2 separate regions of the Homo sapiens genome follow, and region 2 is linked to region 1. The links come from fine-mapping of genetic effects on gene expression. Tissue or cell type: nasal epithelium. Region 1 holds a variant in brackets; the other region holds the start of a gene. All regions are shown on one strand. Distances are between the middles of the regions.

What was found. PIP is the estimated chance that this variant, and not a neighbour inherited with it, causes the effect. A credible set is the group of variants that fine-mapping cannot tell apart.
Region 2: LINC02198 starts here. The variant in region 1 is the best candidate, but not a certain one, in a credible set for the expression of LINC02198 in nasal epithelium (TOPMed, PIP 0.54).

Annotation. Positions count from the first base shown.
Region 1 is chr5:68,952,923-68,955,741 of GRCh38, forward strand. No RefSeq gene overlaps it. Among named protein-coding and RNA genes, the nearest start is that of LINC02198, 76 kb to the right of the region's middle. The variant C/T (reference allele first, on the strand shown) is at 1,237.
Region 2 is chr5:69,028,757-69,031,575 of GRCh38, forward strand. LINC02198 (long intergenic non-protein coding RNA 2198) reads right to left here and starts at 1,171. Exons shown (of 4, transcript NR_130778.1): 1 at 1,032-1,171.

The DNA of each region.
Region 1 (2,819 bases):
AGTTCAAAATGGTATTGCGGGTCCAATTTACTTATAAGTGTCTAGGCTACAAGGATGTCTAAGTATACATGCATAGATAGAAACATAATAAAATGGTTTTGATGGTGGTGGCAAGGCTGAGCGTAGCCACTATTGTGGGGGAACGGCTGCTGGTGATAAAGGTGATGATGACGGTGGGTTTCAGAAGACAGGGATATTTATTGGGTGATCGGAATTGGTATCCTTTCTTGCTACAGTACCAATTCTCAACCATCCCTGAGACCTCTCTCTTCATACATTCCAGTGGTTCACCATAGAGGTAATATCCATCCAGCCACAGCAACAACAGCCACAAAATGTTAGCAGCAATGGCCTATTTGGTAACAAACCATGTGGAATTGCTGACAGCCTGTGGTCACTTAGAGATGCACCCAAATGCCAAGAAATCAAAAACGAAGCCCTCTGCTCAAACCTGCCTTAGATTAGTTGAGGGCCATTTGCCTGACCAGGAGAAACAACGATAACTTTGAGGAGGGTGAGAAAGCCAGGAAGGGGAGGAAGAAACTAAACATGAATTGAAAGCAGATGACACAAGCCCCTGGCTCATATAACCCTGCAAGAAAGAGCATGAAACACGTTTCTTGCAGAAGGATGATTATCAGAAAGAAAAAAAAAAGATTGCAATAAATCCTAACCAAAACCAACAAAAGAAAATGTTGGACAGTTTGTTGGATAAATATTCAGTAAGGCTGATCCAACTCACTGAGTTGTTATAAAGAACAGCTAATAAAAAAAGATTGTCAAGGACACTGCAAACATAGAAGAACTAACCAATAATAAGAACATTAATAATAAGGGAGGACCTAGGAATAAAACCAATTCAATCAAGACCTACAATGTTGAGCAACTAGCACAGAAATAAAGAAAACAGATATGACTGTCTGGAGGTGGTCCAAACAAACAAGAACCAAAACCACTTTTTTGCTCTTAATTTTTAAAAGAAGACAAGTTTACAGGGTATACGACTATAAATAAATATTAGCCAACGGGCTCTTGCTTTTCCCTAGAGACAGCTCCCTTGGAAACGACTTCCTGGATGGAGAGGGTAAGGAAGTTGAAGTCTCTTACTCTCCTCCCCAGAGCTCAGGGTCCATGACAGGAAGACTTCCCTCCCTAGTCTGACAATTTGGGATTGGAAAAAAAACGCTGGAAGGAATCCAAAGCTGTGGTTCATTTCATTCTTTCATTCTCTGCTTT[C/T]GCCAAATGCTGACAATTACAAACAAATGTTTTCTTCACAAATACTTTCTTCTAGATGAACATTCTGCTCATTTTGGTTGCTTATGTATAAATGGCTTGAGAAACACTTTCTAAATCCCCAAGGTGACAGAATTTCCACGTAATGATAATGATTATTTAATATCATCATCACAATGGGCTGCCTGGGCAAATGAAATGCTTGCTGGGTCTAAAGCATTCACTCAAGTGAGGTAAATTAACGCTTTCCAGGGTACCAGATTTCCCGTTGGGACCCTAAAGAAGATAACTCATTACTCAGGCATTCTCTACCCCCAACACTGCTGTCTACCAGCAAGTTCTTCAGTTGCTTTAAACTGTCAGGCTTCTCAGCCAGTGCAGGGAAGTCCAAGAGAGATAAGAATACGCTGAAAAGGTCCACACTAGGTGGATATTTTTAGTCATCTGAAGACAGTCCAGGAGTTATAATCATCATAATAACCCATGTGACGCAGCTCATCTTCCTTCTCAAAGCACTTACAACATGTTAATCATCCCCTTTGATCCTCACAATAATCCCTGAGGTATGCAAAGCAGGTATTATTATAGTCAGCACCTGGCTATAGTAGCGAGAAGGACATAGACAAATGATATGGAGGTAAGCCTCAGAGACACAGAAAAGCAAGACAGGGTGTAGCAGGAAGAGGGAGCAGGCCCCAAAACCACTAGCATCAAAAGCAGTGAGGGTTTGGGACCAGGGTCCCTATGGAGTCAAACCGCATATTAGCACATGGAGACAGAAACATGACGAGGCTTGAGGGTCTCATTGGGTAGACTGAGTTTAAAAGATGATCTAGTGATGATTTACTGTTTAAAGATTATTGTTTCTATGGCCAAAATCAAGAAAAATGGAAATGAAAATGGACTCTGCATCCATTTTACTATTTGTACTATGTGTCAGGTGTTTTTCTATAAAATACTAACTCATTAAGTCTACACAACTAATCTCTGCAAGACAGATATTATCAACCTATTTTATATTACAGATGAGAAGACTGAGGCCCAAAGAAGTTATGCTATTTGCCCAAGGTCACATATCTGCTAAGTGGTGCAGATGAGATTCAGGGACTAGGAGAAAGAAAGCAACAGAAGGTTGGGGGCACAGGCCGGGAATAACTGAGCCATAAGTTACAGGCAGCAACAATAAGAGCATCTAGATAAGCATTTAAGAATAAGGAATGAATGCTTCCTGAGCCCTGGGCTCTATGTCCTTCCTGCCCAGAGCATCGCCTGCTCTTGAAGCATATCAGAGGCTGGGCTCACAGAGCCTGGTGAGAGGGCCATCCGACTGAGGTGGAAGAGAGAGGATAACAGGCAAGATGATTCCTGGCCATTAGCACCCTTTCACAGAGAGGGAAAGTAAGTCCTAGGGAGGAAAGTTCACGAAAAAGCTGGGGAGAAGTTGCTTTTCTCCTGCAACAGCAAGGGGAAGCTATAATGTCTGAAAACAGAAATCTAGGAGGATCATGGTAGCCAGCAAGCAGTTTGCCTAAAGCGTTAGGTTAATGTTGGTGAGAGCCAGAGATGGTGGAAGGAAGTAGAATGAC
Region 2 (2,819 bases), 76 kb after region 1:
CAGCAAAGTCTCAACTGGGATCAAGTCTTGTTCAAAGTAAAGCCTTCTTTCTAAATCCACCTACCTCTGTTAACTATTGTTTTCTTCTGTCTCTTCTCAACTATGCTCTTACTGAAACATCAGCTCCTGGGACATCCCTTGTCTTGTTTCCCAGTTTTGTTCCTACCTATGTTTTGCCAGGATTCAGAGGAGCTGGGTTCTAGGCTTGATTAAAATCTTTCTAATCGTGTCATCTTGTTAACATCTTGTTGGTCATCTGTTTACACCTCTTGAATATCAGATCTAGCCCAGATCTGATCCTTTCCCCCATACTCATATTAAAATGCACCCCCACCTTCGCCTGTAGAGGGCCATCCTTGCCCCACTCCACATATTTAGCTCAGGAGTTATTGTCTCCATCCTGGCTAATCAGAGTTAACCACATACTAGGAAAACAGAACTAAGAGATGTCAAGGGAATCTGGGCCCTGATGGTATCAATCGAACATCTCTTTCAAGGCACATTGAAAGCTCACTCTAGTCCTGAACTTTTCAATTCTGTGAGCCAAAACACAGAGACAGAGACAGACAGAGAGACAGATACCTTTTACTGTGTAATCCACTTTGAGTTTTCTGTCGCTTGTAATGCATCTTTCTTGGAAGCATGTTTTTCATCAATAAAACAAGGATAATACTTGCTACCAAGCTTCAGTAGGATGTAAGTATTTTGGAAAGTCTAAAGCCTATTCAAACATAAAGTATTATTCCTACTTCCTCTTTTATGCTCTTGCCTGAGTTCCTTGCATACTAATACTTTCAAAGCATAAAACATAATACTATACCAAAAGAACATTTTCATTACCTGATATTCCTGTTCTGTGTTCAGGGACTTTTGATCCCATCTGTTCTACAGAATCTTTTATATAATAGAATTCTTTGAAACCAGACCAGCAAAGTTCTGTTTCAATGAACCATTTGTTCCCTAAGCCACAAAAATAGCTCCTGCAAATAAACCCTATGTTTAAAATGGTGTTTGTGAAAACCTCATTTTACCTGTGATATATATGAATGTACTTTGGAAATAAATTTGCCTTGTAAATTTGTCATTGATGTCTAGTAAATTTTCATTACTACTAATTAGTTAAAGTATTAGTTCCTTCTGATTTCTTGATCTTGGGACTTGCTGCTCAAAAAAGGCACTGGCTTTGGGGATCCAACAATGAAAGATCTTGGGTCTTTATTCAAACAGCAGATGATTTTCTTTTCAATGCTGCTGATTTTACTTCTGTGGTTCTTTTTTCTTCATTTCTGCTTCTCCCTCCTTTTCACGACTAATTTGGCTTTGAAATTTGATTCTTTGATTTAATCCATCTGCAATATTTATTCCTCATAGCTATTATCAGTGCCTTTGCAGAAAGTCATCTGTTGCCTGAGGAATTAGAAGACAAGGAGATATTAGGGGTTTGAGTTGCACTCTAAAAAATTAGAGAACAGAAGCAATATATTGGGATGTTAATCCAATCTCAATAAAGCTGTTACTTAAAGAGAAAAAAAGCAATGAGTTAATACTGGCCGACCCCTCAAGAACCCATGCAGAATCACAAACTGATCCTCCCCTGGGTTCATCAGCATGAAGGATGATGGCATTCTTTTCTCGATCCAAATAAAACCCAGCAAACCCTTCTTCAAGTGTTACCAATGAGGCATGTAGAATCACAGTAAGGAGATTTAACTGATAAAGGCATTTTATTTTCCAGCATTTAAGTGTACACTTTAAAGACTAAAATCAATTCCAACGTCCCTATTTATACTCTGGTGGTACACATGTGTATATATAGCAAACCAGCCATTAGGAAAGAAGCTTTGCATCTTTCCACATAATCCAAAATAATGGCAAATTATGATGTGGTGATTAAATCAAGACCTTCCATATCAAAAAATATATTGCGGACTGGATCTATTCAAAGCTACCTTCTTTTTCAATTTTTTATATTTTATTCCACCTTGCCAATGTACTTTCCTTATAATTCATTCTCTAGCTCAGCTGGACTTATTGCTACTTAGAATGGCACATACAACAGTGAAAAGATGATGTCACCCTTTAGCCAAATTGCACTATTATTCCAGAACTGCATGTACTCTCATTCATTTATCTCTGCTGACATCGCTCCACAGGAAGGTTTTCCAGGGCAGATGCGTGCTCCCTTGGCAATAAAAGTGGTGGAGATTGCACATCCATTTTAAAATCCTGAAAGGTAGATTTTAGTAAATCTCAACTTTTTAAAAATGTATTGTGATTAAAGGAGGCATCAGTTGTTGTCCCCAAACCTGTTCTGGTTAAAAACCTCAAAGAATCTTGAATGTGAAACAACCTTCAAAATTTATTCTCATTATACAAATATTTTCTTCATTTAAAGGCATGTTTTAAAAGCTGAATTTAAGAAGAATTGTGCAGATTATAGTGGTCTATTTTGCAAGTATGTGCATATATGCTAAGAAATAACTATACACTTTAGTGAACATTTGATAAGGAGTCGGGGGAAAAATTAGTGAAAGATTATTATGCAGGATTCTATTCAAGTGTGCCAGAACAGCTTTAAAATCAAATGCAAGCATTAGAGATAGGAAGAGACTTTAGGAAGAGGAAGACAAGCAATTGCAGAAATTGTATAAAACAGAAAAGGCAACGTAGGAAGTAAGAGTGAAGAGAAAATCCAGGAAAAATAGGGTTGGGTACAGTGGCTCATAGTTGTAATCCCAACATTTTAGGAAACTGAGGCAAGACAATCGCTTAAGGCCAGGAGTTCAAGACCAGCCTGGACAACATAGTGAAACCCCATC